Linked DNA regions of Homo sapiens: all the other regions are reported to be linked to region 2. Evidence: microRNA targets listed by miRTarBase, many of them from high-throughput screens and not tested one by one. Region 2 holds a microRNA gene; each other region holds the end of a gene's coding sequence.

What was found. The annotated mature microRNA hsa-miR-148b-3p reads UCAGUGCAUCACAGAACUUUGU and lies in region 2 at 1,896-1,917, opposite strand. An mRNA with a match to its seed (bases 2 to 7 or 8) in the 3' UTR can be bound and repressed. Matches are read on the target gene's strand: a 7mer-m8 pairs with bases 2 to 8, a 7mer-A1 pairs with bases 2 to 7 and ends in A, and an 8mer does both.
Region 1: the mRNA of HEMGN is a reported target of hsa-miR-148b-3p. The part of its 3' UTR that is shown has no 7-base or 8-base seed match.
Region 3: the mRNA of LCN9 is a reported target of hsa-miR-148b-3p. The part of its 3' UTR that is shown has no 7-base or 8-base seed match.

What each region holds. Positions count from the first base shown.
Region 1 is chr9:97,924,734-97,927,988 of GRCh38, reverse strand. It overlaps HEMGN (hemogen), which reads left to right. Exons shown (of 4, transcript NM_197978.3): 4 at 511-1,198. The coding sequence ends at 605. Among named protein-coding and RNA genes, the nearest start is that of TRMO, 3.9 kb to the right of the region's middle.
Region 2 is chr12:54,335,940-54,339,194 of GRCh38, reverse strand. It overlaps MIR148B (microRNA 148b), which reads right to left and starts at 1,979; the gene lies at 1,881-1,979. All of the region lies in intron 1 of COPZ1 (coat protein complex I subunit zeta 1), which reads right to left.
Region 3 is chr9:135,665,116-135,668,370 of GRCh38, forward strand. It overlaps LCN9 (lipocalin 9), which reads left to right. Exons shown (of 6, transcript NM_001393661.1): 4 at 130-240; 5 at 573-637; 6 at 746-1,846. The coding sequence ends at 628. Among named protein-coding and RNA genes, the nearest start is that of LCN9, 3.4 kb to the left of the region's middle. RefSeq lists enhancers at 1,583-2,083, 2,084-2,584.

The DNA of each region.
Region 1 (3,255 bases), not on the chromosome of region 2:
GTTAAAAAATAAAACACACCTAATGGTCTTAATCACCCCCTTTTATAATTAATGTTACTAGACATCTTTTCAGGATTATTATAAATATAATTTTTTAAGAATTGCCTGTTTGAATCCTTATCCCATTCAACATTTTTTATTTCTTTTTTCCGATTAAAAAACCTCTTTAAATAATAGTTTTTACTATGTATATGTTGCAAATATTTTTCCAGTTGTCTTTGATTTGGTTTAACTTTGTTTATAGTGGTTTTCACCATATATAATTTTACTTTTTAGGTATTCGAACTTGCTAGTCTTTTCCTTTATGGTTTCTGGTCTCTGTGTTCTGCTTAGCATCCTAAGATTACTAAAAACACTATTATTTCTATAACTTTATGGTATTTAAAAATTTACCCCATCTACGGTTTGTTGTTGTGTATGTTGTAAAGCAGTTTTTCTTCCTCCAAATGGAGAGTCAATTGTCCCAATACAATTTATTGAATCTATTTTTTATTTTATTTGATTTTACAGAAATGAAAGAAAAACCCAAAGAAGAGCCAGGAATACCAGCAATTCTGAATGAGAGTCATCCAGAAAATGATGTCTATAGTTATGTTTTGTTTTAACAATGCTCAACCATAAAGTTGTGGTCCAATGGAACATACAGCTTAATAGTTTATGCGTGATTTTCTCAAAATATTGTAAAACTTTTGACAATGCTCATTAATATTATTTTTTCTATTTGTAGACCATATCTGAAAGAAATAACATTTTTTAAGGCTCTACCACATAGACAATATCATGCTAGAATGTGTGTGTGTGTGTGTGTGTGTGTGTGTGTATGTATGTATAGGTCGGGGAGAGGATAGTGGTGGGAACAGACAAATAAGGAAGCGGGGAGGACTGGATAATTGGTTTTCCCCCCTAAGAACATTTATTTACGTCTTAAGAGCAGATAAGTGACTAAGACTGAACACATACATTTTGTGGAGTATATAGTTTTCTTGTAAATGCTGTTCAATTATTAATGTAACAGTAGCATCAAAATTTTATTCAGGCTTTAGTTGACTCTTTTGGTCAGTTTTAACAATTCTCCTTAAAAGATATTTTGGAGTGATGAATGTAGTTTACTTTTGTATTTGAATTTTGATTTTCTATTTTTATTTTTTAAATATTGTATTTGTGCACAATGTACATTAAATCATTATTACATGCTTAACTGTGTGGATACCATCATGTTAAGAATTGCGGAGGTTAGAAGACCTATCTAACACCCCACGGTGGGGTTAATTTGGTTTCATGGGGAAATAAAACAGAAAACAAATAATCACAAAAGAAAATAGTAAGGGCTGGTGCCATTTGAATGGTAGATACAAACAGAGAATGCTCACTTTTTGCTGGAGTGACCTGAAAAAATTACACAGGCATGAAGCCTTGAAAGACGGAAAGTATTTGCATAGATGAGGATAGCAGCATTACTGTATGTGACAAAGAGAAGGGTGAGTTCAAAACATGTTCAAGAGAACTGCAGGCAAACTATGGTTAATGTAGAGTCCATATGAAATAGTAGTAGGCTTGCATGCTGAAAAGCTCATATTACTAGAGCATAGAATATTTTGCTTACCTAACCAAGAAATATATCACTTGTTAAAAATGGGGAATGAAGTCAGATTTTTGAACAATGGAATGGCAATTTCACTATTTTAGGAATATGGTAAATATGGTGATAATGGTAAAGATTAACTGAAAACGACAAGAGACCGGGGCAGGAATAGAAGCTGTTCTGGATGGGAAGATGTCTGAAAATCTACCCTGGTATTTTTTGTTTTCACTTTTCCTTCTGTTATTACAGAGGACTAAGGATATTTTTGCAAATAAAGTTTCATTCAGCAAGAACACACTTGCACAAGCTTTCCATATAGACACTGTGCTAGGTACTAGCTATATCAAAGAACAAGACAGGGTCACAGTCCCTCAGGCATTCATGGTATAATGAACATGAGAGAGCAGTGGTTCTTTCAACCCTTCTGGTACATTAGACTCACCTGGGAAGGTTTCAAAAATACATATATGTCCAGACTTCTCCCCCAGGGATTCAGATTCCCCCATCTAGCTGATGTACAGGCATAGGTATATTTATTTTTTAATTGTTTTATGCTTCAAATAATAGTTTTTGGAGGAATAATTTTAGAATTACAGAAAAGTTGTCATGATAGTACAAAAGTTACTATATACCTTTCGCCCAGTTTACACCAATGTTAACGTCTTACATAACCATGGGCCATTTGTCAAAACTAAGAAATCAGGATAGTTACACTACCATTAACTACAGACATTATTCCGTTTTCATGAATTTTTCCACTAATGTGCTTTGTCTGCTTCAGGGTCCAATCCAGGATATAGAATTGCATTTAGGATGTTTTTATTTTAAAAGCTCTCCTGACAATCCTAAAGTGGAGGTAGGGTTGAGAACCAATAGTACAGTGGGATGTTACAATATTGTTTCCCTCCTATCTGCCTACCCCCTTTTGTGTGTACATTAAATTTTTTACCATCAGGATGTATTCATTGCACAATTATTCATACCCCTATTATATTTATTACACAACATACTGAGGGCAGGGCAGCACAACCACATAATAGTTTCGTCTCTTTTTTTTTTTTTTTTTTTTGAGACGGAGTCTCACTCTGTCGCCCAGGCTGGAGTGCAGTGGCACCATCTCGGCTCACTGCAAGCTCCGCCTCCTGGGTTCACGACATTCTCCTGCCTCAGCCTCCCGACTAGCTGGGACTACAGGCGCCCGCCACCACGCTTGGCTATTTTTTTTTTTTTTTTGTATTTTTAGTAGACGGGGTTTCACCATGTTAGCCAGGATGGTCTCAATCTCCTGACCTCGTGATCCTCCTCGGCCTCCCAAAGTGCTGGGATTACAGGAGTGAGCCACCGCGCCCGGCCACAACCATATAATAGTTTCTTACCTCTCAATGACACTTCAACATTTATACTTTCACATAAACTATTTTATTTGATCTGTACAAAAGTATGTGAAATAGGCCAGGCGGTGATTATCACTCTCACTTAAAGATGAGGGAATAACATAGAGGGAAGGTACTCACCCAAAGTCACATCTGACTTCCTCAGTGCTTTTTTTTCTTCTTTGGAATGTGCTTCTGTCTCAATTTCACCTGCCAGAGTGGGCCAAAATTAGAGGAAAAAAAAGAGTAAACTGAAGTCTCAAGTTCTAACAGCGTTGCATTAAGATGGACCTTAAGAGA
Region 2 (3,255 bases):
CCACCTAGGCCTCCCAAAGTGCAAGTGTGAGCCACTGCGCCCGACCTACATTCCTTGACTTTCTAATCAACATTACTTACCATTGATATCCCTTGTGCTGAGACAAGGCTGTTGCTTTGCTACCTCTTTCCTGGCCTTATTTAAGAAACCCACAGTCCTCACAGGAGCCAAACACAAAAGTATGTGTTTGACAGATATCCAAGAGTGAGGAGGAAAAAATCATTGCCAAGAACCCAGAAACTGCAGCCTCTACAAACATAAATTGCCTCATGAGGCTTCAGGAGGTTTATGGTTCCATGCAAAGAATCAACCCTGTTTGCGGGGGCAGAGGAGGGCAGTTCAGAATGGAAGTAAAAGGAACCCAGTCTTTTGACAACAAGGTGATGAGGAACATAAGCTTTCCCTACTTGAATTCTTGAGGACTGCAATTTTTGTTTTGTTCGCTGGTTTGTCCCATTTGTCCAGAACAATGCCTGACACATACTAAACTCTCAATATTTGGTGAATAATTCAGAGAATAAAGGAAGTTTGAGAATAAAGTTAAAATACCTTGACGCAGTATGCATCTAAGGGACTACTTATAATTAGACCTCCACATATAAGTGGATTTTCTGATGTGGCCACTTTGGGTGATATTACTACCAACTTTATCCCTCCTCTGATAAACACTCCTTAGAGATGTCCATCCTGTATATATAACACTCTGGAATAAACAAGGCATGAGTAACTCCTCTCTCAAACTAAAGAACTTTGTTGCCTAGTGGAGGGAAGTCCTCTAGAGTCTAGTCTTAAAAGGTCACAAGTAGAAGCAGCTCTCCTAACTCCTAATTCCTCACAGAAAGATCTTCCTGTAAAGCAGGCTCAGTTCTATAACAACTTGGGTCCTCAATTCCAAAAGGGAGACAACAATGGGAATGAGTTTTCTTAATGGAAGAAAAGAAGTCCAAAAGGAACAAAATTTAGACGAAATCATTTTTTCCCACAACCTTTTCCTGGAAATCTTTGGCTCTGTTCCTCTATCCACATTCACAGCAACTTTAGAGAGCTGCCCATTAGTTTAAGCTGGGCATTAACCTGGCATAGGAAACTGGTTCTTGCAGCCATAGAGTTTGGCATCCCTAGAACCCAAAGAAAAGCAAAGCCCTAATGGCCCCCAGCCAACTGGGAGAGTCAGACAATGTCCTTTGTGGCCAACAGGGTGTGAGTGCCTACAACAGCCACACCGGCAAAGAGAGAACATATCCCTGGGTTCTGCTCTTGGTTCTTTTCACTGGCTTCCTAGAAGACATTATCAAAGAAACCCCAAAAATAGAAACATTGGATCTTCCTGGGAAGAATAAAAGACAGGCTAAGGAGGACAAGGATAAAGACTAGATTTGACATAGAGCTTACTGGAGCTCTCAAAAGGGAAAGAAGGCATTACAGAAAAGGCTGGTCATTTCAAACTTCCAAAGGAGGAAGCATACTAAATAAAGCTGAGAATTTAGGCAGGCGCTTAAATGCCGCTTCAATTCTCCATTCTGCTACAGCTGGAGCCAGCAGCTTCTTTACTTCTCCTGCCACCTCCTGACTGCAGCTGGTTCCACTTCAGCCTGGGGCTTTTACCTCTCAGGAGTGGGGAGGGCTATGCCATAAAACTAGCCAGTTTAAAGGCCCCAGAAGTCATTACTGATAATGTAATTTCATTTTAAGTTTTTGCAAAGGGCAAGTTTATAAATAACTCCCAGCTACTGAGAAATGGGCTTCCAGGACAATGGACTAGGCTTGACCTTGTAACACATTAAATGCTGACTGTTGAGAAAGACCTTATCAGCTTAGGGCCACACTGAAAGAATTTAAAAGGTCTATTCTTCCCTCCCACTCCCAAAATGGGTAGCTGCTAGAAAGCTTTCGAGACAAAGTTCTGTGATGCACTGACTTTCAGAGAGCCACAGCCTGAGTGTATAACAGAACTTCACCTCAAATGCTAATCGTGCTTGGAAATGATGTATAGGCAGATTGTTTTGTGGGAGATTGGGTGACTTAGACAGATTTTCATGTATTTATGTTTTTATTATCAAGAAAACAAGAATGCTGTCCTCAAGACAGGTGAAACACCACAGAACAAGCAACTAGGCTGCTGCAAATGAATCTTTGATCTCAGGGGCTTCTTTTTTTTTTTTTTTTTTTTTTTTTGCGACAGTCTCTCTCTGTCACCCAGGCTGGAGTGCAGTGGAGCAAACTCCGCTCACTACAACCTCCACCTCCCGGATTCAAGTGATTCTTGTGCCTCAGCCTCCCGGGTAGCTGGGACTACAGGCACACACCCCCATGCCCAGCTAATTTTTGTATTTTTAGTAGAGACGGGGTTTCACCAAATTGGCCAGGCTGGTCTCGAACTCCTGACCTCATGATCTGCCTGCCTCGGCCTCCCAAAGTGCTGGGATTACAGGCGTGAGCCACCGTGCCCGGCCTCAATCAGGGGCTTCTAAAGCCTGGTGAAAAGCATCAACATCTCCAAGAACTCTCTCCCCTAGCGCATAGAGGACTAGAGGGAAAGAGTCATTCCTAGTGCTGCCCCCTGTGGGCCTTCTCGGTGACCTGCAGCTTCCACAGGATTACAGTCATAAGCAAAAATATTTTTCAAAGGCAGCTCTGGATAAGAGCTTTTTTTTTTTTGAGACGGAGTCTCGCTCTGTCGCCCAGGCTGGAGTGCAGTGGCACGATCTCAGCTCACTGCAAGCTCCGCCTCCTGGTTCAAGCTCTCCTGCTTCAGCCTCCCGAGTAGCTGGGACTACACGCACCTGCCACCATGCCCGGCTAATTTTTTGTATTTTTAGTAGGGATGGGGTTTCACTGTAGCCAGGATGGTCTCAATCTCCTGACCTCGTGATCCGCCCGCCTCGGCCTCCCAAAGTGCTGGGATTACAGGCGTGAGCCACCGCACCCGGCAAAAGCTCTCTATTTGTGTGTCTTGTAGGACAAACTAGTAGAGATGGGCCCTGAAAAATAAGTGAATTAAGTCTGTTCACAATGTATATAGTAAGAGAACTCTTTGGGGTAAGATCTTAGTAAGCCACCAGAAGACTGGGAGAATATGTTTGGGGAAGGTAGAGAGGATACTTGGAAACTATAATGAATTATTTGATTCATTTAGGGGAAAAAACCAAGAAGCCTCTATGGAGGGAATTACAGGATGCCATCTACAGAGCTGAAAGAGCACAAATAAGAATATGGAGGCCAGGCGCAGTGGCTCATGCCTGTAATCCTAGCACT
Region 3 (3,255 bases), not on the chromosome of region 2:
CCGTGGGCTCCTCCCCTCCCGCCTCAAAAGGCCACTTGACCCCCCATCCTCACTTGCGGCCACACAGCACGTGTCACAGGACCCTGAGGGTGGCGGGGCCAGGCCACGCTGAGCCATGTCTCCACGCAGATGAGGGCCAGAACACAGTGGCCGTCTCGGAGACTGACTACAGGCTGTTCATCACCTTCCACCTCCAGAACTTCAGGAACGGGACCGAGACCCACACGCTGGCGCTCTATGGTACCTCCGCTGTCCCCCTCTGACCCCCTCGGGGACCCCACCTCCTCTGAAGTCCGGCCCAACCCTGGGCGGAGGAGGGTCTCGCAGTGGCCCTGGGGTTTGGAGAGGTGGTTCCCGTTGGCTATTCCTTCCCACAGACACACCGTTAGGGTGCTGGGTGCTTCAATCTGTCACCTCCCATCTCACTTGGCACAAAGCCCCTCTCTGGTCAGGGCGTGACCCCCTGCCCAGCCTCAGCACTTCCTGAGCACCCCCAGCAAGGCCCAGCTTCACACAGAACCAACTCTGTTCCCAGCACGGGTCCCATAGCTGGAACCCTCCTTCCTGAGCAGATTTGAAGAAACCTGCGAAAAGTACGGACTTGGCTCACAAAATATCATCGACTTGACCAACAAAGGTCAGCCCCACTGCTCCCGGACCAAGCGGGAGCCGGGACAGGGTGGGGATGGGAGGTGTGCCTGCGGGGTCCCTGTCCCTGCGCTGAGAGCCCCCTCTGTCCTTCCAGATCCCTGCTACTCCAAGCATTACAGGAGCCCGCCCAGGCCTCCCATGCGTGAGCTGCGACTCGGGACGGGCAGGGGGCTGGATGGGGAGAGCTTGGGGCCAACGTCAGAGGCTGCGGGGTCCCACCCCAGGAGGTGCCCATCCCTCCCCCTGGTCTGGGAACCGAACACAAGGTGCTTTGGTGAAAGATGCTGTGAAAAGCATCCTGGAGTCGGGGCAGTGATGGGGCCTTCCAGGGTGGTAAGGTCTGAGCAGGAAGTGAGATGGGGCCCTGTGTGAGTCTCCAGGGGCTGATGTCACCATATGCGGGTGACTAGGACAACCAGGATTTACTTTCTCACAGCCTGGAGCCCGAGGTCTGAAACCCGAGGTCCGCAGGGCTGTGCTCCCTCCACCAGCTCCCGGGAAGGGTCCTTCCTGCCTCTTCCGGCTGCTGGGGGCTCCAGGCATCCCTGGCTTGTGGCTGTCACTCCAGCCTCTGCCTCTGTCTGTGTCTCCTCTTCTGTCTCTTCTAAGGACACTTGTCATTGGATTTCGGGCCCATCTTCATGCAGAATGATCTCCCGTCAAGACCTCAACTTCACACCTGCAAAGACCCTTTCCCATCAGATGCCCTTCACAGGCTCCAGGCACTAGGAAAGGAGCATGTCCTTTGAGGGACACCACTCAGGTCACCACAGGCTCCTTCTCCGAGCTGCCCCTCCCTTCTCAGACATGGTCCCAGCCCAGTAAAAACCCCCAGGGCCCCCTTCCCTTCCCAGAGCCTGAGCCTCCCAGAGATACGCCTCTGAAGGCACCTCTGCATTTCTGCACGAGGGTTCCTGAGGGTAAAGGAGTGGATGTACCTGTGGTGCGTGGTGGCCCCAAGATGCGGGTGAGATGAGATGGCAACCGGCAACCAAGGCCCTACCCCTCCCCTCTCCGCCCCTCCCCTCGCTGACCTTCCCCTCCCTGTCCCTCCCCTCTCTGCCCCTCCCCTCCTGTCCCCTCCCTGGGCTCAGCCACTGCCTTTGGGGGAAGATGATCAACAATGTCACAGCTGAGGCAGGTGCCTGCGCCCCCGCCTCCATGTTTTGGTGAATAAAAGGGAGGTACCAGCCAATCTGCGGTGACTTTGTGGGTTAAAAGTGATTGTTGGTTGGGCCTCTGTCAGAGATGTGAAAACGACTGCATTTGTATGATGCTCTCGAAATCACAAAACCGCAGAGGGGGACATGAGTCGGTGATTTCCAGAGGTTACAAATGGAAGGTAGGAAGTCAGCCAGAAAGGGGCACCAGGAGGGGCCCTGGTGACGATGGAACGTCCTGCACTGTGACCCTGGCGGTGGACATGACCCTGCACGTGCAGCAAAAATGCGGCTCTGTCTGAGGAGCCGCTGGCCCTGCCCCCTGCCCGGGGGAGAACATTTTGCAGCCCGAGACCCAGAAGCGTCTGTGCTGGGGGTGTGCGCTGGGCGGCCCCAACTCTGGCGTCTGCGTGAGCTCTCCAAGGGGTCATCCTGTGGGTCACAGTCCCGGGTGCTCAGGAAGAACCTGTCCCCAGAGCCAGTGCCTGCTTGTAAAGGAGCTAAGTGGAGCTGTCTTAGGATGAGGGTCTGGATGCCACCCCCCACCCCACCTCCATTGGGAGCTCCAGGCTATAGGGTGAGGCTGGGTAGAGTTTTAGTGCCCGCTGTATGGGTGCCAGGCTTGGGGAAGGAGCAGCTCCATTGGGATGGGAGGGAGTGGGAGGCACCTGGCATTCCCATGGCTGCCCAGCTTCCGGCCCCTTGTTTGGATCTGGGCCCAGCCTACTGAGCTGCAGCGGGAACGCGAGAAGCTGCCCACTCGGCGGGGCCCGTTGGTGCACAAAGCTGGCCTCGGAGGAGCAGAGCCAAGGCTGCCAGAAAGGGGTGCTGGGAGGCCACTGCCCATTGGTGCAGGGGGAGCCTCTGGGCCCCAGAGGAGGCCTGGGCATGGGGGTAGATGTGGACATAGGCAGAAGCCTTTAGCCCCACCCCAGAAGACAGCACAAAGGGGAGCTGAACCAGAGCTGAGTGTCCCCAGCACCCACCCCACCATCAGCTGCTCAGCACCAGGCTGGCCCTGGCCTCAGACTCCTGCAGCCTCAACACCAGGGGCCTCAGGTGGACAAAGGAACAGGGCAGTGGGCAGGGCATGAAAGAACAACCAAGAGACCACCCTCGTTGTTTCCATTTGGGGTGGCACTCAGTCAAATAAAAATCTAGTGAGGCCGGGTGCAGTGGCTCATGCCTGTAATCCCAGCACTTTGGGAGGCCGAGGCAGGTGGATCACCTGAGGCCAGGAGTTGGAGACCAGCCCGGCCAACATGGTGAAACCCCACCTATACAAAAAATACAAAAATTAGCCAGGTGTGGTGGCGGGCACCTGTAATCCCAGCTACTTAGGGGGCTGAGGCAGGAGAATCGCTTGAACGTGGGAGATGGAAGTTGCAGTGACCCAAAATCATGCCATCGCACTCCAGCCTGGGCAACAAGAGTGAAACTCCAT